Linked DNA regions of Homo sapiens: all the other regions are reported to be linked to region 1. Evidence: microRNA targets listed by miRTarBase, many of them from high-throughput screens and not tested one by one. Region 1 holds a microRNA gene; each other region holds the end of a gene's coding sequence.

The links. The annotated mature microRNA hsa-miR-6730-3p reads CCUGACACCCCAUCUGCCCUCA and lies in region 1 at 1,406-1,427, shown strand. An mRNA with a match to its seed (bases 2 to 7 or 8) in the 3' UTR can be bound and repressed. Matches are read on the target gene's strand: a 7mer-m8 pairs with bases 2 to 8, a 7mer-A1 pairs with bases 2 to 7 and ends in A, and an 8mer does both.
Region 2: the mRNA of DYNLL2 is a reported target of hsa-miR-6730-3p. Seed matches in the 3' UTR shown: 7mer-m8 at 6,183-6,189 and 7mer-A1 at 5,549-5,555.
Region 3: the mRNA of CMTM6 is a reported target of hsa-miR-6730-3p. Seed matches in the 3' UTR shown: 7mer-m8 at 1,894-1,900 and 7mer-A1 at 4,345-4,351.
Region 4: miRTarBase lists TMEM200C as a target of hsa-miR-6730-3p. Seed matches in the 3' UTR shown: 7mer-A1 at 1,470-1,476.
Region 5: miRTarBase lists ZNF516 as a target of hsa-miR-6730-3p. Seed matches in the 3' UTR shown: 7mer-A1 at 3,662-3,668.

What each region holds. Positions count from the first base shown.
Region 1 is chr1:12,574,010-12,580,384 of GRCh38, reverse strand. MIR6730 (microRNA 6730) reads left to right here and starts at 1,362; the gene lies at 1,362-1,428. DHRS3 (dehydrogenase/reductase 3) reads left to right here. Exons shown (of 6, transcript NM_004753.7): 3 at 973-1,092; 4 at 1,429-1,667. RefSeq lists an enhancer at 6,210-6,375.
Region 2 is chr17:58,089,109-58,095,483 of GRCh38, reverse strand. It overlaps DYNLL2 (dynein light chain LC8-type 2), which reads right to left. Exons shown (of 3, transcript NM_080677.3): 3 at 1-6,342. The coding sequence ends at 6,205. Among named protein-coding and RNA genes, the nearest start is that of DYNLL2, 8.9 kb to the right of the region's middle.
Region 3 is chr3:32,479,329-32,485,703 of GRCh38, reverse strand. CMTM6 (CKLF like MARVEL transmembrane domain containing 6) reads left to right here. Exons shown (of 4, transcript NM_017801.3): 4 at 1,607-4,392. The coding sequence ends at 1,744. Among named protein-coding and RNA genes, the nearest start is that of CMTM6, 20 kb to the left of the region's middle.
Region 4 is chr18:5,885,929-5,892,303 of GRCh38, forward strand. TMEM200C (transmembrane protein 200C) reads right to left here. Exons shown (of 2, transcript NM_001395400.1): 2 at 1-6,229. The coding sequence starts at 6,135. The coding sequence ends at 4,270. It overlaps MIR3976HG (MIR3976 host gene), which reads left to right. Exons shown (of 10, transcript NR_172496.1): 8 at 1,593-1,794; 9 at 3,152-3,245. Among named protein-coding and RNA genes, the nearest start is that of TMEM200C, 6.4 kb to the right of the region's middle. RefSeq lists a silencer at 4,635-4,854 and an enhancer at 5,372-5,899.
Region 5 is chr18:76,359,329-76,365,703 of GRCh38, reverse strand. It overlaps ZNF516 (zinc finger protein 516), which reads left to right. Exons shown (of 7, transcript NM_014643.4): 7 at 3,147-6,375. The coding sequence ends at 3,206. Among named protein-coding and RNA genes, the nearest start is that of ZNF516-AS1, 130 kb to the left of the region's middle. RefSeq lists enhancers at 2,825-3,324, 3,325-3,826.

The sequences.
Region 1 (6,375 bases):
CCCATGAAGCTGGCCCCAGTTACATAGGCAGGGATTAGGGTTGATTACGTAACAGGCGTAATCATCTGTTGTTCCCTTGGAAATGTAGACCGTGTGGGTTTCTCTCCAGGACTGTGGCGGGGCAAATGTCCCATTGGCCTCTGGGAAAATCCTTCTGACTCCAGTCATCTGTTTGGGCTAAATATATCAGTGACCTCCAAGAGAGGGAAACCCACCCTGACTGTCTGGCACGTGGTAATGTTAACTGTTTTTATGTCGCAGTAAACTCATTTATTATAAATATGCTGTGTGCCAGGTACGGTGTGTGCCATAAATTATTTCTCCTCCTCAGAACAGTCCTGGTGCGGCATTAGCCCCATCTCACAAATCAAGACTGGCGCTCAGAGACGCAGTTCTCTTCCCCAGGCCCTGTGGCTGCTGGTGGTACGGCCAGGTGGCTGCTGGGCCTCTATGTATGCAGGATAACTGGAACTAGGCTGGCAGAAAGTGGCCTGCGGGAAGGAATATCTAAGAAAAACTTGTAAATAACACATCAATTGATTGATCATAAATGGACTCAGAAATTACTCGTTCACTTAGGAGTAAGCCATATCCCTTTTAAAAAGTATATTGGACCGGGTGCGGTGGCTCACACCTGTAATCCCAGCATTTTGGGAGACCGAGGCAGGCGGGTCACTTGAGGTCAGAACAAGATTAGCCTGGCCAACATGGTGAAACCCCATCTCTACTAAAAATATAAAAATTAGCCAGGCATGGTGGCAGGAGCCTGTAATCCCAGCTACTTGGGAGGCTGAGGCATGAGAATCGCTTGAACCCAGGAGGCGGAGGTGGCAGTGAGCCGAGATGGTGCCACTGCACTCCAGCCTGGACAACAGAGTGAGACTCCATCTCAAAAACAAACAAACAAAAAACATATATCGTTGGCCCTGGGCTGGCTGCCCTCATGGCCCCGTGGCTCCCTCTCGCCTGCAGGTGGGTGACATCACCATCCTGGTGAACAATGCCGCCGTGGTCCATGGGAAGAGCCTAATGGACAGTGATGATGATGCCCTCCTCAAGTCCCAACACATCAACACCCTGGGCCAGTTCTGGGTAAGGGCTATCCGGGGCCAGAGCCAGCCCCGGGCGTGCAGGGAGCCCAGGCAGGATGGAGGGGAGGGGATGATTTGCCAGGGCTTGGGCTCAGGCCAGCAGGGATGTCCACGAACAAGGTGGCCAGACAAGACGAATGACCAGCTCTAGGACACATCAGACTTTGTGAAATATGCTCGGTGTCCTGGGGCAGGGAGCCCTCGGCCCTCTCCCTCGCAGGAAGGCTCGGGCCCTAGAGCATCATGTGTGTCCGGGGTGGGCTGTTCTCCCCGAAAGAAAGGTGGAGGGGTTGTCAGAGCTGCAGCTGCTCCACCCTGACACCCCATCTGCCCTCAGACCACCAAGGCCTTCCTGCCGCGTATGCTGGAGCTGCAGAATGGCCACATCGTGTGCCTCAACTCCGTGCTGGCACTGTCTGCCATCCCCGGTGCCATCGACTACTGCACATCCAAAGCGTCAGCCTTCGCCTTCATGGAGAGCCTGACCCTGGGGCTGCTGGACTGTCCGGGAGTCAGCGCCACCACAGTGCTGCCCTTCCACACCAGCACCGAGATGTTCCAGGGCATGAGAGTCAGGTCAGTGAGCAGGGGACCCACCTTGAGACCAGCCTTCTCACCTGCCTCCCCAAGCCATTCAGTCAGCCAACTGCAGAAAGAGCTCTGATATAAAAATCGGGCTAGGCACGGTGCCTCATACCTATAATCCTAGCATTTTGGGAAGCCAAGGCAGGTGGATCGCTTGAGCCCAGCAATCCAGTTTGAGACCAGCCTGGGCAGCATGGAGAAACCCTGTGTCTAAAAAAAATAAAAAATTAGCTGGGCATGGTGATGCACACCTGTATTCCCAGCTATCTGGGAGGCTGAGGTGGGAGGATCAATTGCTTGAGCCCAGGAAGTTGAGGCTGCAAGTGAGCTGTGATTGTGCGACTGCACTCCAGCCTGGGAGAGAGAGTGAGACCCTGTCTCAAAACAAAAAGTCACCAAGGAGCCTCTACCCTCTGTTTGACGCTGTCTTACCTGGTTCTCGGTCTGCAAGGCAGTGATGCCACGATGGGGAGGGTCCTGCTGCTTGGTTCAGGGAGCTTATAGGAAACTACCAGAGCTACAGGCATGCAGCGGGATGTGTCTAAAGGTCAAATGAGGGAGATGCACCTCCACAGCGTCGTGCAGGGCGAAGGGAGCTTGAGACATAGGGTGCATTCTGCCTGGTTCCACCTGTATGAAGTTCCAAAACAGGCAAAACTGGGTTAGGGTGATGGAAATCAGACCCGTGGCTTCCCCTGGAGGGCTGGGGGTGTAACCTGGGAGGGAGGCGAGGGAACTAGCAAGACCTTCAGAAATGTTCTCTCTTCTTGAACTTAGCAGTCATTAAATACGTGAAAGTTAATCAAACTGTCTGCTTAAGATGTATACCTTTTGTTATATGCAAATTATAGCTCAATTTATTTGTTTGTTTATTTAGTTATTTATTGAGATGGAGTTTCGCTCCGTTGCCCAGGCTGGAGTGCAGTGGCGCGATCTCGGCTCACTGCAACCTCCACCTCCTGGGTTCAAGTGATTCTCCTGCCTCAGCCTCCCGAGTAGCTGGGATTACAGGCGTGCGCTTGCACCCAGCTAATTTTTGTATTTTTAATACAGACGGGGTTTCACTATGTCGGCCAGGCTGATCTCAAACTCCCAACCTCAGGTGATCCACCCACCTCAGCCTCCCAAAGTGCAGGGATGACAGGTGTGAGCCACCACGCCTGGCCGTAGCTCAATTTAAAATGAGTAATAGGGAGGTCCCACCACTCCTCCTCCAAACCAGTTAAGTCAAGGGGAACGGGGACCACTGGTCTAGAGCTCATGCCACCTGGGGTGGTGACTCCCTCATAGCTGTGATGTACTCTGTGACATTGGGTCCCGTTAATTACTGCTGTGGCTGATCTGCAAGATGGGGTGCGCGAATGTCTCCATCATAGGTTCTGCAGTGAGGACAAAGTGGAATCTGGCAGGGAACACCGTGTGTGGTACATATTAAGTGCCCAATAAATGGCGCTTTAATGATGTGCAGTTATGTAGGGGCATGACGTCATCGATGAATGAAAACCGGGAATTACTCAAATACTATTCTCCCTGGTTTTTTGCAATCCAGCGTACAGTGCTTCACCTTCTGATTATATATTGCAGCTGCTTCCAAAAATGAGGATGACACGGAAGGGTCATGAGGAGAATTCAGTGAGACAATTTAGTGTAGTGCATGCCACGTGGGAGTCACTCATTACGCCTTAGTTACTATTAATCGGGACAGTGCGGTGTTGATTGTTGAGAATCAAAAATACCGGGCTTGGTGGCTCATGACTGCAATCCCAGCACTTTGGGAGGCTGAGGCAGGAGGATGGCTTGAGCCCAGGAAATTAGAAATAATACATGTAACACATCTAGTGCAAAGCCCGGATACTAGATGCTCAATAAGGAGCTGCTGCTTTTATTATTTTTCCTAACAATAAACATCTTCATAAATGCATGTTATTAATTTTCCTAGCAGACCACCTGGTTTGCATGCAAATTGTCATCAATTCTGAATTTCGAGGAGTCTAGACTAATGGCTACTAATGTTTCCTGTTGGCTTTTTCCCCCATGGGTTTTGGTTTGGTTTCTTTTCATCTGAGTATACAGAAGGTGCTCAATAAATGCATACTGGACAGAAGTGCATCAGTGGCAGTCTGCAGTTTTGTTTTGTTTTTTTTTTTAAGACGGAATCTTGCTCTGTCGCCCAGGCTGGAGTGCAGTGGTGCCATCTCGGCTCACTGCAAGCTCCGTCTCCCGGGTTCATGCCATTCTCCTGCCTCAGCCTCCCAAGTAGCTGGGACTACAGGTGCCCACCACCACGCCCAGCTAATTTTTTGTATTTTTGGTAGAGACAGGGTTTCACCGTGTTAGCCAGGATGGTCTCAATCTCCTGACCTCGTGATCCGTCCACCTCGGCCTCCCAAAGTGCTGGGATTACAGGCGTGAGCCACCACGCCCAGCCGGCAGTCTGCAGTTCTAATTGGGTGTCCTGAGCACAGAAGCAAGCAGGACATTGCAGACATCGAGTTTGTGTGTCTATTTCACCTTCTAGCATAGCTTCTTTCCTACCACTTTAAGAAGGAAATTCAAGGTTTTCCTGCCACATTTTTTCAGAGCGTGAACCCAAACTGCCTGGGGTCAAATCCCAGCTCTGTGTGACCTTGGCCAAGTTACTTGACTTTTCTCTGCTTCAGTTTCCTCACCTCTAAAAAGAGATTCATAATAATAGTATCCCCAGCTGGGCACGGTGGCTCACGCCTGTAATCCCAGCACTTTGGGAGGCCAAGGCGGGCAGGTCACCTGAGGTCAGGAGTTCAAGACCAGCCTGGCCAACACGGTGAAACCCTGTCTCTACTAAAAATACAAAAATTAGCCAGGCATGGTGGTGGGTGCCTGTAATCCCAGCTACTCAGGAGGCTGAGGCAGGAGGATCGCTTGAACCTGGGAGGTGGAGGTTGCAGTGAGCTGAGATTGCACAATTGCACTCCAGCCTGGGCAACACAGCAAGACCCCACCTCAAAAATGAATAATAATAATAATAATAATAGTATCCCCTTTTCATGGGTTAGATGAGCTCCTGTGTGTGAGTCATCTGGCCACGCCTGGCAAGTAGCAAGCACTAGGTGAACATTAGCTACCTATGGTTGTGCAGGGGAGCCCCAAGGGCTCGGCCAGAAGAGTAGTACAAGGAAGATGGGTACCTAACCAACTCCCATTTCCTAAAAGAATAAAAAATGGATAAAAGCATGGGTTTCCTCCTACAACCATGCTTAGCAGCCTCCCAGGGTTAAATGGGTTAAATGTGAAGACATGTTTAGGACAAAATGAGTGAGTTTCCCAGCAAGACTGGCCATGTCAGTGGATGTTATTGTTTATAAATTGCTATTTATTGAGCCTCTTTTTTTTTTTTTCTTTTGATACAAAGTCTTGCTCTGTCGCCCAGGCTAGAGTGCAGTCATGTGATCTTGGCTCACTGCAACCTCCGCCTCCCAGGTTCAAGCAATTCTCCTGTCTCAGCCTCCCGAGTAGCTGGGATTACAGGCACCTGACTCCATGCCCGGCTAATTTTTGTATTTTTGGTAGAGACAGTGTTTCGCCGTGTTGCCCAGGCTGGTCTTGAACTCCTGGCCTCAAGTGATCCACCTGCCTCAGCCTCCCAAAGTGCTGGGGTTACAGGCATGAGCCACCACGCCCAGCCAATTGAGCCTCTTCGATGTTCCAGCCATAGAACCACCTAGAACCACTAGACACTTTACAAGTGCTGCTGCATTTGGCCCTCACAGCAACCCTGGAAGAGAGCTTTTATTCCCATTTTACAGATGAGGGAACTGAGGCTCAGAGAAGCAAAGTTACCTGCCCAAGTCCACATAGCTTGAAACTGGCTAGCTAAGCATGCTTCTTCCACGAATTTGCACTGCTTCCATGGGAGTTAATAGCTGTGCCAGTTCCCCGTGTCCCCATCCCACACACCGTGGAGAGGAAGGAGAAAATCCTGCGCACAGACGTGCTTGAGGCCTCCTCTGTCGGCTTCCCTGGCAGGGGTCTTACCAAGAAGGATTCCCGTCAAGCCCATGGACTTTGGTCTGTCCATCCTGCCTTCCCTTTCCCAAGAGACAGGCCAGGCCACAGGTGGAAGCCAGAGAATCCAGACCGCCCACGACACCTGTAGGACTCCAGTATCAGTGAGCTGCCTCAACACGTTCATCTCTGTAGAATGGCAGAGGCTGGCCCCTCTTGACCACAGGGCTGTGGGCCTCAGAATCACCATCATGGCCAGGCGTGGTAGCTGGGTTCACACCAGTAATCCCAGTGCTTTGGGAGGCTGAGGCAGGGGAATCACTTCAGCCCAGGAGTTGCCAGCCTGGGCAACATGGCAAAACCCCATCTCTACAAAAAATATAAAAATTATCTGGGCATGGTGTGTGCACCTGTAGTCCCAGCTACTCGGGTGGCTGAGGCAGGAGGATTACTTGAGCCCAGGGAGGTCGAGGCTGCAGTGAGCTGTGATCACGTCACTGCACTCCAGCCTGGGTAACAAAGTGAGACCCTGGACTCAAAAATAAAAAATAAAAAAAGAATCATCATTGTGATGACAAAGGAATTACAGGGCAGGGGGTAAGATTCATGTACCCTCTGAGGCCAAACCCCTGCTGGGAGTCCAAGGGCTGCCTGTTGCTGAGGAATGACATCAAACCTGGGTGATTCATCACCCTTAATCTTCCTGGTGCCAGAG
Region 2 (6,375 bases), not on the chromosome of region 1:
AAATCTCATAACATTAACTGCTTCAAGGAAGGTAACCCCGTAGCTGGAAGACAGAGGTGGGAGGGAGAATTTTTGCTTTTTGTGCCTTTAGAATAATGTATCATGTGAATGTGTCATTTAGATTAAGGGTTGGTATACTATGGTCCACAGGCCCAATCTGTCCCCTGCTTTTTAAAAGTTTTATTGGAACATAGCCATGCTCATTTGTTTACATATTATCTATGGCTGCTCTCACACTGGAATGGCAGAGTTCAGAAATTGTAATCTGTATACCTAATGTCATGGACCACAAAGGCTAAAATATTTACTGACTCTTTACAGAAATGATTTGCCAACCTGTCTAGATTTTTTAAAAATAGAAAACTGACATTAAAAATAAAAGATGCCCCAAGATAATTGAAAACATATCTACACAAAAATCTGTACATCAATGTTCATAGCAGCACTAATCACAATAGTCAAAAAGTAGAAACAACCCAAACATCCCTCAACAGATGAATAAACAAAATGTGATATACCCACACGTTACTCAGCTAGAAAAAGGAACAAAGTACTGATAAATGCTACAGCACAAATGAACCTTGAAAACATGCTAAGTGAAAGAAGCCAGAAACAAAAGGCCACATGTACAATTGCATTTATATGAAATGTCCAGATTAGGCAAATTCATAGAGATATAAGGTAGGTCAGTGGTTTCCCAGGGCTGGGGAGAAGAGGGAATGGCAAGTGACTGCAAATGGGTACATGATTTCTTTTGGGGGTGATAAAAATGTTCTAGAATTAGATAGTGGTTATGGCTGCACAAATTCGTGTATATGCTAAAAACTGCTGAACTGTATACCACCACCAAGTACAGGGCAATCCAGAGTTCAGTACAGGGCTCAGAACCTAGTAAAAAATTAGTCCTCTCTGCCACTGCAAATCAAAATCAAACCTGGCCTGGGAGTCAGATCAAGTTCTGCATCCCAATTGTTGCGAACATCCATGTGACCTTAGACAAGTTTCTTCCCTATTTCCTTCCCTATAACATGGGTATAATTGAGCAGGGAGGGAGAAGGCTGGTGGTGCAATAGGGTGTGAGGGGGGGATTTTGTTCTTTCCCCAACTTTATTAGATACCCTAATAATCAGTATCATCATCATCATCATCACCCATTTCTAAGCATTTTCACATACATGATGTCATTTGATCTTTCCCCTTAGAAAAGACACATATTGTTTCCATCTTACAGATGAAGAAATCGAGGATCTGAGAGATCAAGCAGCTTGTCCACGTTCATCCAGTGGGTGTTGGAGCTGAGATTCGACTCCAGGTCTTCTGATTCTAGATCTTGTTCTGCCTACACTACCACACTGTTTTTGCATGTTTGCATTCTCTCTAGAAAGCCCAAAACAGCAGTGTCCAGCAGCCTCACCACAAACACTGTACACCTTTATCTGGGCAAAGGGAGGAAGGAGAGGCAGAACCTGGGGTTCTGCTGGTTCTCTTTTATCTTTCTTATGAACCTCTATATTGGCACAGTAGCAGTCTGTGGGTAGGAGTATTCACGCACATTGATGTGGACACCAAGCCCACATACATCACAGAGAGAGACACACAGGTACACCTGACCTCAACAGGCAACAGGTCATACTTGTTACTAGGGTAGTGAAGGGGCTATGCTTTTTGTTTAGGGGAGGCCCAAGAGGTCAGAACTCTAGGCGTCTGCTCTCCTTTCTAATACCAGGAGACCCATCTCTCCCAAAGGCCTTAAGGAGGAAGAGGTGGCTCCTTAATCCTTAGTAGAGAGGAGTAAGGAGGAGGGAGAGAGGAAAGTATCCTCGCTGTCCTTGCTAAACCAGAGCCCCAAGAGAGGGAACATCAGGGATTCACTACTAAGAGATCTGGGCCTACATCTTAAAGAGTATCCATGAGACCCTTGCTGCCAAACCCAGTTAAGCCTTTGTGCATCACAGTGCTAAGTTCTAGTAATGCCACCAGCTACATGGGCTTTGCCACTCACCTTCTCTGATTCAGTTTGCTTATCCAAAAATGTGTCTAATGATTACTGAGTCTAGCTCAGGGGGGCGCTCTCAGGTTTCAGCAACATAAACTGAAATGCTTTAAAAATAAAATGCACTTTATGAACACACTATTTCATCCTCCCATACTGCCAAGCAAGAGTGGCTCAGGCACTCTTGCTTGAATACACCTGGGAGTGACCCTCTCACGCCTTTCAAGGTGGCAAGGCTTGGGCAGCAAGGAGAGCCGTGCCTAAGGCAGCCATTCTCTTCAGAAAAGGCAAGGCTGCCCTGGGGCACCAGGCCTGTCCAGGCTTGCTCGCACCCTTCTTTTTTCATTTGAGCAATCTGTATGTATCAAACACTTCCTACAGGACAGGCACTGTTCTGTTTACTTGAAGATAAGCAGTTAAGAGAAAAATGCTCTCACAGAGCTTATATTCTAGTTGTCACAGGCCAGAAAGTAAACAAAAAACAAATATGTCAAGCGTTGGCAGATGCTACGTGGAATTAAACTGGGTAAGGATAACAGCGATGGGGGAGAGGTGCTATCTTGCACAGGATGTCAGAAAGCCTCTCTGATAAAAGGATGTTTGAGCAAAGACTGAAAGGAGGTGAGAGAATAATTTAGCGGGGAACCACACCTTAAATCTAGTCTGGAGGACACTAGAGTTCAGGGAACAGAGATCGACAGTGCCACAGCAACAAAGAAGATTCCCTACCATGCTGGTTATTATCCATTTGCCTCCCTTAGATTGTCACCACCTTGCCCTTTCCTGCTGTTCCCAGTGGGGAGGGGGACTGAACCCTACAGACTGCATCCTGGGTCTGCCTTGTCATCTGCCATTTGGTTGGGTTCAGTCAAAGGGGGTCCCCAGAAGACTGGAGAACAGGATACAAGGAGCAGGGATATTGATGCTCCTATGGGCACAGTTCTAATAATGGCTGCATTGTTCCGAGAGAATTCCACAATTTCCATCTGCTTTCCACAGTCCCTTCAGTGACACATGCTCACATACTTTCCCATCCTGGGCCCCGAAAAGTGGAGGCTCATCTCCTCCAGGAAGCCCTGCAGGATTAGTCTTCCAGATGAGCACTGTGCACCTACCTGTGCAGGAATGTGTTGTTCACAGATGCCACCTGGACTGCCTCTTTCATCAGGGAAGAAAGTAGATGAGCTTTGGCCCTGGAGACACTCATCCCTGATGAAATGTGAACTGTGGCCTCACTCTCCCTCCCAAAGCTCCAGCTCTGTCAAATTACTCACGACAGCTAAAGCAGTAACAGAAGTTGGGGCTCTAGAGTCTCTCAACTTAATCCCTTAGGACCTCACTGCCCCAGAGGTAGAACTTCTCCCCAAGATCAGCCAACCACCTTCCTAACTGGAGGAACCCTATCTACCTACCTCCAACACTCAATAGCTCATTGCCCAGTTCATTTCCTTGATAACACATTTATCACTATTGGAAAAAGTTGATCAGTGTGTGTATGTCTGCTCTACACATAAGAATGTGTATGTCATAGAAGCCTAGAACTTACTTGTCTCATTCTCCTCTGTGAACAGCATCCTAGGCCCAAGCATACAAGAACTCTTAAATATTTTTGAGTAAAGAAATAGTAACACAAAGAGGGCAAAGCACCTCTGGCTCCCTAACACCTCCAAGAGAATTGCAGTCACACGATGGTGGAGTCAGGGGTGGGCAGACACTCTCAGAAGTCTTGGCACTGCTGATTTCTCGAGTTGTGTGTCTGGGCAACAGAGGATTCAGAGAATCACTTAGGTTCCACCAAAAGAGGTGCCATCTTTCTAAATATCCCCAGCTTTCCATTTCTGAGTGGCCAGACCCTTTGCTAAATAGTCTCCAGGTTCAGGAAAGCCGAGAAGGGAGGAGTATGAAAGATAAGAGCTTTGGGCAAAAGTTGAAGCAGCAAAGCTCAGGCAGGTCCATGACGGCAGCTGGGAAGGTAGCAGTTACTATCCCAAAGACACAAAATATGATTCACCTGGCCATCACCACCAAGGAAGGCAGAACCCAGGAGCCCTTAAGGGTGAGTGCTGCTGGTTAGTTTTCCTCTACTTAAGGGGCATAAGCCTAGGCACAAATAAGTGCTGCTACAGGCCAATCAGTATCTAGTGGCTGGTCTTCCCTTCAGTCCCCATTCTATTCCACCCTGGAGACTCTCCACCCTCACCCACTGTGTGGCACCACTGCCACCATGCCAACCCCTCATCCCCAAAGAGACCCAAACAGTGCAGAGGTGCATCAATCAACCTTTAATGTCCAAAAGAGGCGTGGATGCAGAGCATAGGAGATGTGGCAGGGTCTCAGGCCCTGCTCCAGAAATGAGGGAGAGATGAACACAAACCAGACACTTTCAACTGGCCACACAGTCTGGGAGGGCAGGGGGAAACACAGATTTGGACATTCATAAAAAAATAAAACCTAAAATCAAGCACTCAATTTTGTGCCCACTGAAGGGTTTGATAAAGGGAACTCAGTCACCACCCAGGTCTCCCCTCCCCTGCCAACATCACAAAGCAAGCTCGGCACACACTAAGGGCTTAGGGAGGGGTATTCTCCTGCCTCCCCACCAGCCCCAAGAATGGACTTGAAAATAAAAGAATAAGCTGGATCCCCCACCCCCCCACATTGTCAACCCTACACGAGAGTTTTGAAGGCGACTCATGAAAATCAGCAGCTCAAACGGCAATGACCACCCCACCCCAAACCCCACCCCACTCCTATTTCATTAACAGACAAGATTTCCCCTGCATCCTCCTCAGAATCTCCTCCTCTCACAGCCCTGCTCCATCTCCTATGTCCTGGCTTCACCACTGCAAGACTGACCTCCTCCAAGGCTCCCAGAAGCTCCTCTTAGCTCTTTATCACTTCTATCCTCACCTCCCACCAGAGACTGCAACCATCCACAGTCACTGTCCCTCTGCACTGAGACCCAGCTCCAGAGCAGATGGCAGCATGGTCATCCTGTCCTGGGTGGTCCTCCTAAAGCCTTCCCAGGGAGCAGACAGCCAGAGAGCAAGCAGAGTGTCTGGGCTAGATGACAGCAAGGAGGGGACACCTATCTTTATTTTCAAAACAGATATCCCCAGAGGCTTTTAGCATAAAAGCCCACTTAGAACTAACTGTGCCCCCTACCTACCCATACACCCTAGAGATTCCACACTGTCCTGCCCCCTCCCTCCCTTCTACCCCAAACCCCACACACACATACACACACATATACACACATATTCACACATATACACAGAAGAGTCAAGGGAGACATCAATTTGGTTTGATTGCTAAGACCTAACTAAGGAACTACAGTCACCAGAAATTCCCTTGCCAGCCAACTAACAACAGGGGCTGCTCTAAGAGAACTCCAGAGGAATGAGGAAACTGAGGGCTAAGCAGGGAGCAGACAGGAGAAAAATGTAAAGAAAAAAAAGATTCAAGCTAATCCTACCCCAGCATCCTCCTGTCATGATCTCTGGCAGGAAGAACAAAAGAAGGTAATCCACAAAGACACAGCCCTTACTTAGAAATTCTGACAAAGACAGCAAGACAAATCTGCTCCCCACTCCCACACACCACAGACAAACACATCTCAGGGCCCCTAAAGAAGGCATCCCCACCCCACCCTCCGCCCCAAGCCATAGAATCACAGTTCAGTGGAATATTCTCCCTGGTACTAGATCAATCCCTCCACCTTCCTTCCTACCCCTTTTTCCTTGACAATCCCAACACTGTCCCCCTGCAGCCTCCCTGGCCCTCCCAAAGCAGCATCCACCGCCAGGAAGAGGCAGCTGCACAGTTTTAGTTCCACCTCCAGAGACCTATTTCTTTTCCTCAGCCCTCCTAGTCTTTCGGCCGCCTAGTCTCTATGGTGGGCCTTTTATTTTGTATAGGGAAAGAAAGAGAAAAGGGAGAGGTGGGAGAGATTTCCTAGTGCAATACAACCAAAAAATATTTTTAAAGTCTTGAAAAATAAACATAAAGCAGCCTTCTTCCCCCAGGCAACTAAACAGAAAGAGGTTTGGTTTTGTTTACTGCGACATACACATGAAATCGAGTATACAGTCCATGCAGTAGCACAGCCATTGGAGAGGACATCCTGATGCTGGCTCCAGTGCAAAACAGTCCCAGCAACGCCGCCTGCTTGCCATCGCTGCCGCCGCCACTGACACCTTCACCATGGCCACCTAGCCTGACTTGAAGAGGAGGATTGCAACTTGACCCAAGTAAAAATAGATGAAGTGCTTTGTCTCGTGTGTGACGTAGCTGCCAAAATTTCGGCCCACGATACAATGCCAGGTAGGGTTATATTTCTTGTCAAATTCCTAAAAAAGAACAAAGGTAGAGAAGAAAGGTAA
Region 3 (6,375 bases), not on the chromosome of region 1:
ATCTTGATTCATTCTAGCAATAAGCAATATTTATTCATGGGTACATGAACCAATAGAAGAGAAAAATCAAAGTTTTAATAGGGCTTTATGGTTAATTTCAGTTTAGAAACATTTTTGTTGCAGAGGAGTATGAGATGGTGATCAATAAAATAATGAGTTTTTTAACTCATTTTTAATTTTAAAAAGCTCTGGCTACTTATTTGTATAAAAATACATTACTATAAAATTCTGTGGGGAAAGTGAAATGAAGTTGAGGAAAAATTGAGTTCCAGGGAAAAAATTTACAGCTATAAAAAAAATTTTTATATTTTAATTAGACTGTCCCAGTATTTATATTTCATTGGATATATTTAATAGTGACAGGTAGTTTAAAAAGCTGATATTTATAATATGCTGGAAATTACCTTTTGTAACTATTTAAATTATGAAAAGTTTTATAGACTTAAATGCATGAGGAAGTTCTTTTTTTTTTTTTAATTCAGAAGTGTGTGAACAAAAGAGCTAGAAGATGACTTGTGGTGATCAGAGACAGCTTCAAAAACAAGGGTGACATTTGGTCTGAGTTTGATGTATTTAAGAAAGTTGCCAGGAAAATAAGGGGATAAATGCCATCAAGTCAAAAATAAAGATTCCAGAGGGAAAAAGACTTGGCTTTTGTGGCGGGGGATGGGAGGGTGGGAGGCGTTGATAATTAAATTTAGATTGGATATGTTGGGGATATCTGGGGGACTTAATGAATTTGGAGCTCAGTTTACTTTGTGGTAAAATGAGGTGGAATGCTTATTCTTTAGAGGGGGGAGGAGAGGTCAGGAGACTGCAACAGACTGTAAGAGAATGTTATTAATAAAAATCGTGGAGATAGGGAGTTTAGATTTGGAAGAGACTTTAGCCATCACCTACATCAATTTTCTCTTTTTTACAGAGAACTTATCTGGCCCCCATATCCTTAAGGGTTTTGCTAGTGGAGAAGCTAAATTTGAAGCAGACGCATGGTCTTCTGTCTCTTGATAGAATTCTCAGAACGTATGATCGTATTTTAGAAGAGAACAGTTGAGGAAGTGATTTAAGGAAGAGGAAGTAGGTAGTGGCGTCATGTCACTGTGTCATTGCAGTGTGACAACTGGAACATTATTTAAGTAATTTAACCTAATAGTATCTTCAAAATGGAATTTCTGTTTTGATATTAATAACTTTTTTCATTTTCACCTAGGCTGAGTTGCCTAGTCACGTATTTTCCTTATCGCATCTGTGGGTCAATCTAACCATGCAAATATTTTTGTTTTGTATCATTTTATAGGATTTAATGTTTATCTGTTAACCCTACTTTCATATATTAGCCCTCCACATATAAACATGCACACATAAGGCAGAACATTAATATTTTGTGAGACTTTGACTAATAGCCATTATTCTGGAAGTTTTTCTTTTATAACTTCTTTCCATTTTTTGATGACTTAAAAAAATTTTTTTTACCATTAAAGAGTAGTCGTGTATAAGATAAAATTCATGAACATCTTGTTTATATGAAACATTCTCCAAGCCAAGTAGGAAATGTAAGATTATATTCCAAAATTCTCATATAACCTTTCCTCCTTTTTTTCCTCAGGTGTTTGGATTTATAGCAAGTTTTATGTTCCTACTTGACTTTATCACTATGCTGTATGAAAAACGACAGGAGTCCCAGCTGAGAAAACCTGAAAATACCACTAGGGCTGAAGCCCTCACTGAGCCACTTAATGCCTAAAGACTCTGGGGAGCAGATGTTACCTAAGGTAGTGACCCTGCATTGTGGTGCCTGAGCCCTGGCAGAAGCTCTTGTAAAATTTGTTAATTGTTTAAACCACTTCTTTTGGAGAGCAAGGGGAAGGTCAAGAAGGCAGTTTTATCAATATTGTGTCAGTCACCACAAAGTAGGCCAGATAAGTTAAAAAAAATTTTTTTTTAAATAATAATTGAAACTTATCTCAAATGGAGATTTTGGTGGGAGGAGGAGAAAACAATTGTTTTTAAATCACACAGCTCAACGGTTGATAAATGATTCTGTCATTCTGTTACAGGTCATTCTTTTACTAGGCTTAGCTTCCAAATTATGCTTTATAGCTGTATAAACATCGTGATTATATTCATCTACTTAGAAATTGTTTTATTTTTAAATTAATTTGCTTAGCTGTTTGTTTTGATGCTTAGATTATGTTCTGTTAATGGGAATTTAACATATTTAAGAAACCAATATTTAAAATGTTGGTCTAGGTTTTTTTCCTTAACATATATTACCAGGCTTTACTGTATTTCACTCAGCCTTAAATGTTATAATATTTTTGGATAACGGTTATTAATTCTTTGAGACCTTCGTATAGCCTATAAAATGTATGGGAGATGTTGGTATTTTATGTGTATAAAAGCAACAATATCAGCAACTTCGTGTTTATACTGCACCTTGGTTGTTGATGTCAAGTAAAAAAAAGATTGTTTTGTAACACATAAAAAAATGGAAGAAACTGATACCACACCTAAGGACCAAAGATAAGAAAGACTTTTTGCCCAAGACAGTGAAAGTAATTATAAAAACAAGCTTTGACCACTTACCAAGTATCTGAAGAGATGAGTTCATACTATGATTTAGAAAGTGGTTCAATTCCCCTGTTGGCATATGATTATTTTTACTAAAATTAATACAGCTCTGTGGGTCTTCCTTAGTGTTTTCTTTGAAGCCAATCTGTTTTTTTTAGGACACCAGCCTTTGGTTTTTCATCTGTTCGAGATGCCTCTTCTCTGTCTCCTTATCAGATAGAAATGGAGTCATGTGCTGCTGCTTCATCTAGCAGAGGTTGGCCTCTGGCTCTGACACTTTTTGTCAGTTGTCTTTAGGTGGTCCTGAATCTTGGGCCCTTTTGATTGTGAATACTGTGTAGCAGGATCTTGAGAGTCCTTGTTCTTACATAGGCATTGCTCTAGTTTGTCTTTGGCAAAAAAAAAAAAAAAAAAAAGTAAATATCCAGGGAACCCTGCCCAGACTAATACTGTTGGTGGCATAAGAGAATCAAGCCATTCTCAAGAGATAACTTCATAACCAGAATTGTCTGTTGGCTAGCAGCTGTCACAGATAGGCAGGGCACTTGGGATATGACCTTTCTGTCCAGGTGATTCACAGACTAGACCTTTCTTATCCTCCTCCTAGAGTTTTGACTTGGGACTCTAGTGTTAAGATGATGAGCCCGTGCATCAGGTCCTTCTGCACTTTGGTGGAAGTCTCCCAGGGTAGGTTTCCTATTTGAAACAGTGGAATCATGTTTCCAGTGATAAAGTTTAATGACCTCATCCTTTTTTTTTTTTCTCATCTGCCATTTGTGTGTCTTAGATGGGTTTTAATTGCATGAATGTGGCTAATGTGGTTCTCAGAAATTGGTCAGTATGGCCCAACATAGCTTCTGCTCTGTCTTACTGACTCAATACCTTTAGGATTTGTATCAGAGTTTGGATACTAGTGTTAGTGGTGGTGTCACCACTACTTAATTGGGAGATAATGAAACCAATCATGGATGCTGTTTTTATTGGGCATGTCATCTAAGAGAGGAGAAATAGCTGGGTTTTGGGTCTAATTATGAATAAGGACTGATTCAGAAAACGAGTTTATGGTAGGTAGACTAAAGTTTCACATCAGACTGTACCATTGTGATTTAGACCTATCTAAAATTCAGAGCATATCATCTGGGCTACCTCAGGGTCACCACCCATGTATTGGGCTTAGTCAGGATTGACAGATACATTCTCAGCTGGCCTGTCATATAAAACATACTGTCATTGAGCTTAAGCTCCGCTTGTTCTGAGGTTTCACCTCCATGTGTTTCATTGGTGCAAAAGTGGATCTCTTAGTTGGTCACTTAATTCTTTCTTTTTCAGAAAGATAGTATGTTCACTGGTATATTTGGTCACTCTTAGAACCTTCCTTCACATTGTTTTTTATGGGACCCATGAATGGTTAGCCTTTCTTTTCTATTGTAGAAGGAAATAAATAGGAGTAAAAAGACCATTGTAGTAAATAAGTTCAAGGGGAACTTGGGACCAGAAACCACTGTTATGTACAAAAAAATGGCAAATTCAATAAACTCAAATTTAAAATAATTTTTAAATTAACAGTTATGATAAATTTTATATTTTATACAAATAGATTGCTTAGAATGGTTCTCAAGAATTATAAGAGAAATGAACTCACAGTACAAAAATTTTATAATTACTATACTTGTGTTTTGTTTGGGGGCTGGGAAATGTATTTTTACATTGTAGCCAATCATTTTATATTTGTCAATTTAAATCTTATGGGTCTTTTTTTTTTATCTCTCTTGATGTCAGATTTTATAGTCTTTTTAAATAAATCCATTTAATTAAAACGTTCTTACCTTTGTAAGTGTTTATTACAGAAGTGTGATGTTTAAATGAAAAGCTGTCTCTGTAGTTGTGGGAGTTGGCTGCACAATCTTGTTGAGTGCCTATATAGAATACTAGATTTTAGATATATCTAGGATAGAAAAGAAACAAATCCATTTCCCATCCATAAACTGTCCCTCTTGTTGGAAAGTTAGAATACACATTTAAACAACATTTTTAGGGAACCACAGAGGAAGACTTACAAATGGCTTTAAATACTTCCAAAGAAGCAATTTAGACTCCTTGTCACATTTCTAGATGTGGCTAACAATGCTAAAAACAAAATAGGCACATTATCTTAGGAACTGTTCAATGATTGGGAAAGTGTGAAGCAAAATTATTAGGGTGGTGCTGGTAAAACTACAGCTATTTGTGTAGTTTGCGAAATTCCTGCCTCCACCCTGTGTGAGAATAACAGGGTCTTTATAGTCATCAAGAACTCACTGGAATTTGTACATTCTTCAGAGTTTAGAGTTGAGTTTTGTTTTGATAAAGAGCATTGTATCAATATGCAATAAGCTGCAAGAAGCAGAAAATCTAATTAAATGTGTCTTAAACAGTAAGAAAAACTTATTTCATAAGACATCTGGGTACATTGGTGAATTCAGTGGCCAAATTTTTCTACAAGTACAGTAATGTGTGTCATAGAAATTGATATAATAAAGGGGGAGGCTGGGCGCAGTGGCTCACTCCTGTAATCCCAGCACTTTGGGAGGCCAAGGCAGGCGGATCAGCTAAGGTCAGGAGTTCGAAACCAGCCAGGCCAATGTGGTGAAACCCCATCTCTAGTAAAAATACAAAATTTAGCTGGGTGTGGTGGCACATGACTGTAACCCCAGCTACTTTGGAGGCTGAGGCAGGAGAATCGCTCAAACCCCAGAGGCGGAGGTTGCAGTGAGCCGAGGTCATGCCATTGCACTCCAGCCTGGGAAACAAGCGCAAAACTCCATCTCAAAAAAACAAACAAACAAACAAAAAAACAACGGGGTGGGGGGAGAAGTATTGTCTTTTCCCCAACATTTTTATATTTAGCTACTTTTTAAAATTTTTGAATTTGTTTGTTTGTTTTGGAGACAGAGTCTTGCTCTATCCTTCAGGCTGGAGTGCAGTGGCGCCATCTTGGCTCACTGCAACCTCTGCCTCCCGGGTTCAAGCGATTCTCCTGCTTCAACCTCCTGAGTAGCTGGGATTACAGGCGCATGCCACCAAACCCTGCTAATTTTTTTGTGTTTTTAGTAGAGATGCGGTTTCACCATGTTGGTCAGGCTGGTCTCAAACTCCTGACCTCAGGTGATCCACCTGCCTTGCCTCCCAAAGTGCTGGGATTACAGGCATGAGCCACGGCGCCTGGCCTGAAATATTTCAAGTACTGGAAGCACAGAGGATAATACCTGTTGTAGACTCCACTCACTCACCTTTAATAGATTATAACATTTTGCCATATTTGCTTCAAGGTTGTAACTCTGGTTCATTCATTTTAAATGCTGTTTGGTATTTCATTGTATGGATATGTCACAATTTACTTATTCTCCTACTGATAGAAAAATTCTAACAGCATTTTCAGCTTTTGACCATCTTAACATTACAGGGAACAAATGTATTTGAACATCTCTTCTTGTGCACATGTGAGAATTTACATGGTGGGTAACTACTTAGAAGTTAAATTGTCTGGTGGGTCAGAAGGTACGTTATGATTTCAGCATGGCTAAATATTTCCAGATGGATCTCCAAAGGGTAGACCCAGTTTATATTTCCCTCAGCAGTGAATGAGGTGCTGGTTTCCCCACTCTTGTAATGCACTTAATATTAGTTCAACTTAACATTTTTGCTCGTCTGGTACTGAAATGGTGCCTCTTTTTTTTTTTTTTTTTGTATTCTTCCTGTTTCTGGTGAACCTGATTGTCTTTTCACTTGTTTGTTGACCTTTATTTCTCAGAAATAGAAAAAATA
Region 4 (6,375 bases), not on the chromosome of region 1:
TTATGGAAAACAAACTCCGTAAACATCAACCTATTCTTTGTTATAAGTAAGAAAAATATCCATCTTAAACTGCAACCCTTAATACAAGAAGATCTTATTTATAAAATGTATTTTTATATCGTGGCAAAAATACTATCCTAATCCAAATACAAGTCCATATACTTAGTCTGTACTAATTTTATGTGTCAGAGGGTTTTTCTTAAGTTCTCTAGCTCAAAAAAAAATCAAAACTGCATCTTAAAGAACTCAAAATTACTGAAGAAAAAAATTAATATAGAAAAAACTTTTGTCTAGACAATTTAAATAACTCAATAGAGCACCTGATCTTTACTTGAAGCCTAATAGGGGGCTGAGACCTCAAGGACTTCACTGGCCTTTCTGATACGGCTAGCCTCAATAAATGGAAATGCAATAATTGTGGCTAAATATAGCCAAGTGTGCCAGTTTGGGCGTTCATTCATTGTTATATAATATTATGATCCTGGGACCATAAGGAGCATATGTCTAGCTCTTGATAGTTCTATGTTCTACCAGGAGGCATTGCAGCAGCATAAGCCCTCATGTTTTAAGGTCTAACTTTTCTTTCTGATATACCTAAATTTTAAAGACTTTTTAGTACATTAAGTTTATGGTTGTCCCTAACTACTGAGTAGTAAATTTAGCCTACTAATTGCTTTTCTGTATTTTGCCTTAATAATAGTAGTTAACATTTACTGAATATTTTTATGTGCCAGGAGTTGTTCTAAGTCCTTTAATTATATTAGTTTATTTAGTCCTCATTTAAATAATTAATTCTATGTGCCAAATTCCATTTATTATCTCCATTTACTAGATGTGAAGACCCAGTTATAATGTTATATAACCCCCTAAGTCACACTTTGAGCCACTATGCTATGTTGCCTTATACTTTAGATTTTTAAGCCTAAAATTATTCTATTAATAAAAAGGAAGGTCATATGAAGTAATTGTTTAGCAGTTGATTCTATTTTAAATAAAAGGAACAAACCTTTGTATAATACTCTCTATGTTCCAAGCCCATTATAAGCACTTTACACAAATATTAGTTCATTTAATCTTTACTCCAGTCCTGTAAGATAGGGACATTATTATTCCTATAGTGTGGAAAAGGAAATTGAGACACAGAGAGACTATGTAACTTGTCCATGGTCACCCAGCTGGTACATGACAGAAATTCAGGGAAAAAATACCATCACACCAATTGTTGCAATTATTTTAATTTAACATTCGAGTCCTGCCACTGCTGTTTGTCTCAGAATAAATTGTTCCATCTTTCTAAATCTTAGAAACCTCATTTATAAATTAAAGGTGGGGGGATTCTATCATCTATAAGGCCCTTTCAAATACTCTTATTTATTGTGTACAAAAACCCCTGAAAAGTCACTTACAAAAAAACTTGTTCATGCCCGTCTGAAGATTTACGAACTCCAGCTTTTTATCTGACTGTGCATTCTGACAATTTTCTGCATTTCTCTAAGAATGGTCTGGAAAGGGATCTGGCAGGAAATAAAGAATATATAAAGTATTTTGATGGTCTCCAGAAATGCCCATTTCAACTCAGCATCTGCCGACAGGTCTACCTAATCTTCCAAACTCTGTGTAAATCCTGGATCCACCATTTACCAGCTGTGTAACCCTGGACAACAATTCCATCTTTCTGACCTCAGTGTCTTTCTCTGCAAAACAGCGGTAAGAATGATCCTACTTCAATAGAGTTGCTGTGAGGATTCACTGAGATCATGTGTACCAAGCTCCTACAATAGTACTGAACCCACAGTAAGTACTGAGTGAAAATTAGCATTATTGCAGATTTCTGCTCCTATGAAAGTTACGATTGTGAATTACTACACTTATACACTTCCTCTGAAGTCTAAAGAAATCACAGGCTCCTCCCAAGATTTGGAAAATTGAGCTCATCTTTGTCTATCTTCAGAAAAAAAATCTAGTTAAATTGTTCAATGGTTAAGTTAGATATTATCTGATATGGAACTAAGTTTGTGAGATATAAACAGTATTCTGTCCACCCCTCCTTAGTTAAGCTAAGAGGTATTAGCTTTATTATTTGCTAAATGTCACTTAGCATTTGATAAATGTAACATTTACAGTGCATTCTCCGAGGACTGGAAACAGTATTGTAGAACACCAGAACCTGTTTTCCCCTTGAAGTAACACGCTATCTCAGTATATAAATTACCCAGTACCCAAGGTAATGGAGAAGAAAACCTAAGGAAGTTTGACATTTACTTTGGAAGTGTGATAAAGCAATTGAGACTGTTGAAATTTAACACTACCTTGAGGTCTTATTACACTTGCATGTCACTCCTTAGTGCAAACTCACTTTTGCTTTATAGAAGAGCCCAATATATTAATCTACAGCCTTAAAGTGAGTTACCGGTTTAATGCAGATCCAATCTGAGAATAAATTAGGCCCTTTTAAAGTGTATTACAGAATGTTGAGCTAATGGTAATTGACGACGTATATTCACTCTTTGCCAAGTTGTAGGTACAAATGTGATATGATTACATCCAGGACAAGAGCCTGAATTTAAGTAAGGCTTTTAGAGCTGAAGATCATAGAGATTATATCATCTACCAGAGGCCCAGAGGGATTAAGTGATTTGTCTAAGGTTATACAGATAATAGGTGGATATCCCAGATTTCAGACTAGACTTTCTTGAGCTCAAGTTCAAGGAAGGTCCATTCTTCTACACTATGCATTCAGCAATATATTACAATGGTAATAATAATTACAATAACCCCCATCTATTGAATACATCCTGTGGGCCAAGGGTTCTGGTAAACTCCACACATATAAACCCTCCTCTGACCCTGACCCTGTTCTATTCCTCTCATAGCTCCATGAGATATGTCTGGTTCTCTTCATTTTACAGAAAGATGACTGAGACTCAGAGTTTGTGACTTGTACAAGGCCTCACAGCTAGGAGATGCCAACAGCTGGGTCCAATCTCAGCTCGGAATCTGCACTCTGTCTACAGGACTAGCGCTTTGCCCAAGGAGACCAAAATGAAGACATCTTGTCTCCTGGTCTTGAAAATTAACTAATTCACTTTTAATGACATCAAGTGTAAACAATCTACCAAATTATTAAAACATTATCTTTTTGTCTATGTAGGCCATGGATCAAGACCATTAACTTATAATCAGTGATAGCCAAGAGGATGGGAAGAGAATATTAAGCCTGGTGCTCTGCAAATTAATACTTGCAGGTAAATGAGAAGTATCATAGGCATATTACTATTTACTTAACGTTTCATTCTATTTGAAAGAGAAATTCCCAAATGTTAAATACTACCCTACATTTTAAGCTTAAAAATACGCTGGACATGCGACAATGGTGCTGAGTACTTTGGGGGAAGATCACAACAGTCCTGGTAGCAGTGTCACAGCAAAATATTTCAGAGGTACCAGATGAGCTAGCTCCAAGGCAAATGAGGCAATATTATGTTTAACTGTTTGTTCGGAAACTTCTTTTATTAAAAAAGATTTTAAATATTAATGCTATTTTCAATACAGGTGTGATAACACTCAATAAAGCATGGTGTACTTGATATAAATTTCGGAATGTAACAGTCCATCTAGTTCCTGGTCCCCTCCAGTCTCCACCACATAGCCTAGTAGCAAAACGTACACACCCGTTTAAAAATGAAGAAGCTTTTGGGCATTGGGTGAGCACAGTGGGGTGGGGCAAGGAAAGTGCTCGTTCCTGAATTATTCATGCTTTTGGCTTTGACTTCAGTTAGTAACATCAATTCTAAGAGAACTGAGACAAACTCTTCTATGTTCCGCAAAGGAATGGAGAAAAAAGCCTGCCATTCGCAAGCAGCTGTGGGCAAAACCAGCGCAGAGTACAGGGGTCGGGAAATGAGGGATTAAAAAAAAAAGTCGGAGTAAAGTGCACAGTTACTGTCAAAAATATATTATTTTGATCCTAAGAAAATTAAAAGATTTTATCTAATGGACTAGATTGCTGACCTTTTAATACATTTGGTTTTCATTGAACATACAATCACCATCGGACATAAAAAGACTAGTTTGCTTAAAAAAAAAAATCCTTGGAGTTATCTACAGGAATCTTGTGGACGCAATTCAAGGATAACATTCTGCAGCTCTTTGGATATTGAATGATGTCCTCGGATCAGTCCACAAAAGAAACAGGGACCTGTTAATGCACTGATTCAAGTGGGCGTTTCTCCCATTTTCTCTTTCCTCCTCCCCAACCCACCCCTTTCTCTAAATGCCTGTGCTTTCCAGTTCTTCTTCTACCCCTATGGCATGAGACCTGGAAATCATGATGAGTTTCTCCTTGTTTGTAAACTGCCTCTGCACCGGCTGAGGTTGCTCGGCCGTGGGTGGCTCCTGGCTGGCACCCTCCGGCGAGCTCTGCTCCGCACCCAGAACGGGGGCGGCCACAGCAGAGTCTCGCGTTTGACCAGCTACTGCGTCCAAGACCGACTCGGTGGAGGTGCCGGCCTCCCGCAGGGGTGTGTAGCCCTTATTGCTGCTGGATGGGTCATCCGACTGGGAGCTCCCGGAGTCCCGCCTGGTGGGGGGCGAGCCCTCCAGCCGCAGGGGTGGCGAGGGGGAGGCGGCCTTGGCCAGAGGGCTGGAGTCCGGGTCCGCACTCCCCGGGGAGGGCGGGGGCTCGGGGGACGGCGGCGCCCGGTAGTCCGGGAGCCCGCTGGTGCTGCGGCGCCGCAAGGCCGCGTACCTGCCGGTCCTGGGCAGGCGGCCGCCCTGCCCCCTGGCGGCGCGCGCCGCTACCGCGCCCTCGGGCTCCTCCGGCTCCCGGCGCGCCCCGCGCATGCTGCCCTCTGCGCCGCGGAGGTTGGTCATGCTCAGGTCGAGCTCGCCCCTCGGGATCTCCTGGGAGCCGCGTTCCCCCGGAGGCCTCTGCCAGCTGCAGCTCGCGCCCTCCGCGTCCCCGCCCCTATCGCGGCCCCCTTGCAAGGGCAGCAGCGCGAAGGCGCTCAGCGAGGAGTCCACGAAGGAGCTGGCCGTGCTCTGGCGCCCCCAGCTCTCGGGTGGGCTGCAGGGCGCCGGACTGCTGCAGCTGCTAGCGGCTGCGGCGGCGGTGGCAGCGGCGGCCCGGCGACTGCCTGCCACGCCCGAGCGCTCGCGGTAGACGCTGTACACGGCCTCGGCCAGGCTCGGGGGCTCCCGCGGACAGCGCGGGGAAGAGGCCAGGTCCGGCGGGGACGCGGCGCCCCGAGGGCGGCCGCCGCTCGGCGCCGCGGGGTGAGGAGGCCACGAGCCCTTGGCCAGCATCGCCGCCGCTCCGAAGGCGTCCCCGGAGCCACCGCAGCCCCCGGGCTTCAGCTCCAGGCCCCGCGACTGCACGTAGCTGAGGAAGCCGTTGAGCGGTATGGCCCCGGGGGGCGCCGCGGCGGGGGCAGACGACGACGAAGAGGCGGCGGCGGCCGCGGCGGCGGCCGCGGCGGCCGCCAGGTCTTTGGCGCGGAGGCTGTGCACGTCGATGACGGTGGAGTAGAGGTCCCGCAGGTTGATGATTTTGGTCTTCTTGTCCCGGTTCTCGTGGAGGACCGCGTTTGCGCAGATGAAGAGGAAGATGCCGATGCCCATGATGAGGGGCCCGAAGACCTTGAGCTTGTCAGAGTGCAGGTAGCCAGAGAAGATGCGGAAGAAGAAGCCCACGGACGTGGAGGAGGAGGACGGGGAGGCGGCTCGTGCTGGAGGCGTGCTCCTGGGCGCGCCCGCGGAACTGGAGTTGACACCCCCTGGAGCCCTAGGGTGGCTCCTGGACCGGTTTTTGCTGCCACTGCTACTGCTGTTGGCCGTGGTTGGGACCCGGTGGCTGCTGCCCGCAGGCGGCAGCTGCTTACCCCCCTCCCGATTGGTCCCGGTGGCCTTGGGCCAGTAGCCCACCACCGCCATGGCTATGCCCACCAGCAGCACCAGGATCCCACAGAGGGCGATGAGCCCTGAGATGGAGCACAGCTTCAGCTTGCCTTTCACCACCACCACGTCGTTCTTGCGCCTCTTCTTGGCTTTCCGCTTGCGCTTGGGTATCTGGCTTGGGGGGCGGAGTGGATCCTGCTTTCTGGCGGAAATCCTTAGCAGGCCGCCGGTGGCGATCATGGCGAGCTCCTGGAGTGCAGGACTAGCCTCTGGGATGGAGGCTTGCACAGGGAGGGCGCCAACTGCCCACTAGCTGCTCAGCCACCTCCTCCTGCTGCAAAGCAGAGGAAGACAGTCAGAGGGTGTCAGCTTGGCTGCAGTGACATCTCACGCTGCAGCTGCCCTACTCCCAGATCCCACTCCGTGTGTGCCCCCCACCCCAGGGCCTTTATCCACTAACTGAAACAAGGCCGTGTACAG
Region 5 (6,375 bases), not on the chromosome of region 1:
CTTTTACTGTGTTTTGGATTAAGATGGTTCCAATATCAAGGACCGCTGATCCTCCAAATCAAATTCTAAATGAGGGAAAGAGCTCATGCATGTTGTCGTTTAAAAGATGCTTGGTCATCCATTTAGCACAACTGAATAAATGTTTAATTTCTAGTAATCATCAGCATTCATCATTAGAAAGAACACTTTCTGAAAACAATATGTTGAAATCTGGGTGTTTTGTCCTGTGGATGTTAGAGGAAAAACTAGGAAGTTTCTTTAGTGTTGCAGAGAAATTGATTTTTTTTGTTGCATTGTTGTTAAACATTAGAAATTAAAATGATTTTTGAAACCAAGAAAAATTATTCACCCCAACCTCGTGGTTTTGGGATTTATTGAAAGACCAGAATGTCTGCTGAAATATGAAATCTGGTGTTTTGATTTGTTTGGATTCCTTGCCAGAATTTAAAGACTATGATTAATAGTTTATTTCTTATTATTCTAAATGTTATTTTAAAATGGTTAAGCTGGATAAATAATTCCATTAATCAAAATAACAGGAAATGAAAAAACAAATGGCGACCTAATTTGTCTCATTTTTAGCTGTGGCTATTATAATGCAAATGATGGAGAAATCACGTAGGTTGGTACATTTGAATATATGCATAATCTATTTTCAGTATCACTTTCAGAGTCTCAGCATCACAGATCAGAGTTTGAAATTCAGCTCATTTGCTTAAGCTTTTCTTATTTATTAAACCAAACAAGCATCTTAAAACACATTTTCCATTTTCTCTAAATATAATATGCTACCAAAAATCATGAATTAGACTTGGCGAATTACCCAAAATCCCCCCAGTCACATAGCCTTTGTTTACTTATGGTTTGTTGGGTAAAGGTTTTAGTCAGTAAAGCATTGTGCATAATTGGTCCTCAGGCACTTAGCATTGCCTGCGTGGCTGACCACAAGCCCTGTTTACAGGCTGACCTCCCTCTGAAGGCCGAGAGGTGCCCCGTGTGTCCTGGGGCATGGCAGGTTTTTTGTGTGCGGGGCATCGATCCACACCCACCACTACATACACATTTCCCTTGCCTTACTAAAAGAAAGAGAGAAAGTGGACCTCGTGAAGTCCCAGTAGTCAATATCCATCCCTAGAACACTGAAATACCTTCAAGAAAGATAGTATGTCTTTCAGCATTACTGAAAAGCCCACAGTTCACAGCTGCAGAAAAGAAAAGCGAAATCTTCCGAAAGCTTCTCATGTTTTGACTACTCTTTCCCTTCCAGGAAGACAAGGCGATGGTGGGCGTGCTCAAAAGATTATAGTGTGTCCACTTAATTTGAATATTTCTCTGCCTCCTTTCTTCCCTGTTTTATTCATTTCTTAAAAATGCTCTAGGGCTGCTTTATTGAATAATAACATGGTGGCCTCCGGTGAATCAATAACTTAAAGCAACTATCTTAAAAAAATGAGGTATTGGAACACATCCCTTCAGTTATGAAGAGAAAATGGGCGTCTCTGCATCTGGATTTGTGAACACAATTTAACCACCTAGTTGTTTGGCTTATCCCGACTTTGCAGTGCTTCCAAAATAAATATTTTTAAAGCCTTCTGAGCCCTGTAATATAAAACGTTAGCCCTTCATGGACGGAGGGCCGTCTTCCTGTTGCCTCTGGAACAGTCCATTGATGCCTAACCCAATGCAAGTCTGTGACTTCTGGTCCAAAAGAAGAGCTACCCAGGTGGATGTGCCCTGGGGGTGCTGTCCATGTGCAATCTAGGCACACACAGCACCTGTGTTCACAGGCATCCCCTGCCCGCCTCTTACGGTCCCTGACGTCTATGTTTGCTATGCAGAGACGGTCAAGGCCAAACACCCAATAGCTAACTATAACTCCCAGTTTTCTTTGGTAAACACGAAGACCATTTTCCTTCCAGAATGTATTTGGAATTGGTTCTTAGTGAGCCCTGTTGATGATGAATATTTCCCATCAGAACCTCAGAGATGTCTTCACGGCCTGACGTCACTGTACAAAAATGTAAAACAGTCTTTGTCCGTTTACTGCAGGAAATTCACCATCTACTTAGGGAAGTTTTATCACATCTCTCATTCCATTACTGTTTCCTACATTTCAAATAAACTGCTGTCTCCACCACTTTGCCCACCCCCTAACCCCTCGTAAAATTTTGTCCAGTATCTTTCTGACTTCCACTACATGCCAACTGGTAGATGTCACAAACACAGAGCCAGCTGTAAGTAGGAGTTTTCTGGAACTATTAACTAAAGAAAAGCCCTTAATTCATTATGTCAACCAGACCTTCCCCCACTCCGCCATTATTTCTGGGGTTCCTATAGGCATAGCTGGAAACAGAATTTTACACGAGTCCCTTAGTTTATGTATGCATGTTAATTTCCACTGGTCAGTTTCACTTCATCAAGATTTTAGCTGAAGGTTAATGCAGTTAAGTAAGATTAATCTGGCCATACTGTTTCTGTCCTCAGATTGTAAATGCTATTGTTCAAACAGGGATGCTTCAAATGTCATTGGAGAGCATTCTCTGAAAGCTGTGGACCCCCATTTATGCTTGGTTTTCTCTCGCAGTTCACTTTAGAATACTCCTTCCCTTTTTCCAACTTGGTAATTGTTTATGGAAATGGGTGAACACGCTCTGAAGTTCTGACAGACCTACGTGAGAGCCGTGCTCTTCTTTTTGTTTGTATGACCCCCAAATTCAGCCTTGTTTTGGAACTACCGTTCACTTGTAAATCTGCTTTGTACTATACAGTTTTACAATCTGGCCGCCTCCTCATCTTGCCAACTTGTAACCTTCTCTCCAGAGCTGGTTCAGACACTATCATCTGCCATTCTTACATGTGAAACCATTAGAGAAGCCTAATGATCCTTTCTAAATCACACTGGAAATGATTCGTTTTCAAGCTGCCTCTCTTTAAGGCAGGAAGGCACATTTGAAATACTTGCTGCTCATTTTATGAAATGAGTTACAGCTCAGGTCAGGGGGTCTTCGCCTACTTGGTTGGCTTGCTTTGTGAAGGTCATTGTTTGTGTTCTTGGATGTTGATTAGAAAATTAATAGGAAAAATGCATTTAGAAACCAAAAGGCAGAAATGAGCTTTTCTCCTGTTCTTTCCTTTTTCTCACCCAGGGGAGAGACCATTCTAACACAGGTACCGTCCAGACAGTGCCTCTGAGAAAGGGAACCTAAAGGCGTGTTTCCGACGCACCCCAGGTCCCCGTAACGGCCATTAGCAGTACCCTCACGATGTCCCAGCAGCCTCCCACCTGTGACCTGGCCGCTCCATGGAAGAACAGCCGGGGAACTCCTGAGCAGACACCTCACATCCCGAGCCGCTGCGCTGGAGTGGAAACTGAAGGCAGATGCCTCTCCTTGTTAAACGTTCAGAAATAAATGAAGATGCTATATTCTAGAAATACATGTAGATACTATATACGCATTTACGTGCTCATCGTCCATAGTCCCATATTTTCTTATAATAAACAGTAGTACTGGCAGGCACAGTAGGGGCACAAGGCATCTGTCTTATTCAAGACAAGTTTGAGACACTGGAAAAAAAGATACTTGTTGTGTGTGTTGGACAGAGTGGCGAGGCTGAGCACTGTCACAGGGGCCTCCCATGTTAAGAGGGACTGTGGGGATGATGTCAGAACAAGACGTGGTGGATTTGAGGTTGATCGAGTATTAATACTACTGCCTCTCCTTGTCTTAGTGGGTATTTAAAATAGTAAATAAGAGAGAGGAAGGAGGTGACGTTCAGGTGCTGTGGGAAGCAGGCTTGGCGGAGGGGTATGATGATGAGACCCTCATTGTTCACTGGCTCCATCGCACTCCTCCCTGGGGCCGTGTGCCTGTTCCATTCTTCCCACCATTCGAACTGAGCGAATCTGGCAAAGGAGACACGTCTGTGGGAATGCGTAGATTCCGCCTCGGAAGAGAGCTAGCGCAACACTAAGAAAAGCAGGCTTCTTGTTTATTCTCAGGACCTTTTTGTAACAGGGCTACATTCTGCAAACTGCTTACAAAGGAAGACTATACGTCTTAACAAATTATTTAGCCACTGAGTCCTCCCGATTCGGACCTGTTTTAGTAATGGCAGAAGAATCCCTGAGCAGGTTCAGGTGCCCTAGATGACTAGGGTGCTGAGCTCTGGCGCCTTCTGTCCCCACTCTTTGCCTCCCCGCCCCTTCCCTGAGCCACCCCAGCAAGTGGGTGTCTTTTCTCCCTGGGCCTGGTGACCTCCACAGGATGAGTGACTTTGTTCATAAAGGGTGGGGATCACCAGCCCCTTGGGTGGGGGACGGCTTCATATACCTCTTCCTCAGTAATGCAAATGCGAGTTTTTGTGGTGGGGGTTAAGGCCCATAACAAAGGATCTTAAACCATGCAGTGTACGCAATTGAAATGGTATTCCACAGATATAAATATTTTCTTTTCCCATTGCCGTGACACTATGTGTGATGGTAATATTTCTGAGAGTTTCAGATTTTTGCACATATGATTTTATGCATTATCAAAAGTTACTGCTGCCTTGAATGAAAATGTTCTGTGAAATTTTTTGCAAAAGCTTTACTAGGTTTTTTTTTAATTGTGAAATTTTGTAAAGGCAGGAAATGGATTAAAACGAGCATGCTAAATATATTTTTCAAAAAAGCAATAATTTTACATGTACAGAAATTATCCTAACCTTTAATACTGGCGAGAGCAACAGTTTACTTAATACGGTAATGGACTAGTGCAGTTTTTGTAGACAGTGGGCTTCTGATACAAAGTCTTGTTTAAACACAGACACACACACACACAAACACACACACACACCCTAAAGTGTGGGTTTCCTGTTCTAATGATTTGTTGAATATTATTATATTATTATTATTATTATTATTATTATTGTTATTGTTATTAGTAATGTTTGGTTCTGGATTCTACTTGTTACTGAGTTTAAATTACTTGACGGTTCAGGTTACTTTGCAACACTTTCAAACGATGCAATGTAACTGGCTAGCTTATATATATATATATATATATATATATATATATTTTTTTTTTTTTTTACTTATTTTTTTCTGATATTCTTACACCAGATATGTACGAAAATGATCTGTCCTGTTGGTGTAATTAGGAATGTCCATGCAGATACAGTTAAACAACTGTAATTGACTGTTCTGTAAAGTTATTTTGGGCAAAGTTGCGGAGACACATTCCTCTGTCCACCTAAGAAATCAGAAGACTCTTCTGTTGATTTATGTTTAATCATTTCAGTAGTTTCCCCACAGTGATCATTTCTGCATTTTCTGGCTTTTGTTTTCTTGGCTGAAAGTGAATGGTGACTGTTAGGAATGTCAGGGACTAGTGACCCAGTCCTGTTTCTCTGTGTTTTAGTTATTAAAAAGAAATTCTGTACCCAAAGTGACACGAAAGTGTAGTCTACATTTTTACTGTTTCAGAAGCGGCATGGAAAAGTGCAGTTGGCCTTTGGAGCTGGAAGTGTCTTGCTGGTGAGGCTCCATCCTGGAGGCTCTGGTGGGGAGTGGGCTGGCGCTGGGGCCCTGCCGGCCGCGTGCTGGATCCTTCCTGGCTTGCAGGAGAGCAGGCGTGGAGGACAGTCAGCTTGCGGGGCCGCGCAGGGTGCACAGAGTGCAGGAGGAAGGTTTTCACCCAGTTAAACAGACTGGGGAGCCCCCCCAAGAACGCCATCCCTTGAGGCCAGCTGTGGGCAGGCCTGGATGTGTGGTCCCTTCCTTCCACCCATCGTCAGTATTGTGTTGGTTTGTTAATTTGTTGATTTGGTCATAGTATTTAATATGATTTGTGTTTCCTTATTTATTTAGCCACCGTTTTGATTGCCTTTTTTTTTCCGAATGGTAATTTCTGCATGATACACTTCTGTACGTTGTCTTCTGACTGTTACAGACTTTCTACTACCTCTCCCGATCTGCTGTTTCCTTGTTTCTTAACAGGATTTTTTACAGTGTTGCGTCTAATGTAACTTAGACAATAAAGGGTTTGGTTGTCTACACTGCAGCTTCTCGGTGTCTCTCCCCTGCTTTCCGCTCGCTGCTTCCCGCTCTGCCCCTGCTGGGGCCTGGCTGCACCCTGGCCTGCCTTCCTATACTCTCCTGTTTCCTGCTCATATCTCTTCCTCATTTTTGCGTTCAAATAACACACAGCTAATGAGCTTCTAAAAATCTTTTCAGGTTGTTCACTTGTATTCCTTAATTTGAAGAATGAATATTTAAATTCTCTCAAAAGTCAGATATTGAGGATCTTCTCTGGGAAATTGGCCACTGTACCTGCCCACCTTTCTGCCTGGTTCCCTGGAAGGTCTTATTGTCATCTTAGACGGACAGATTTCATT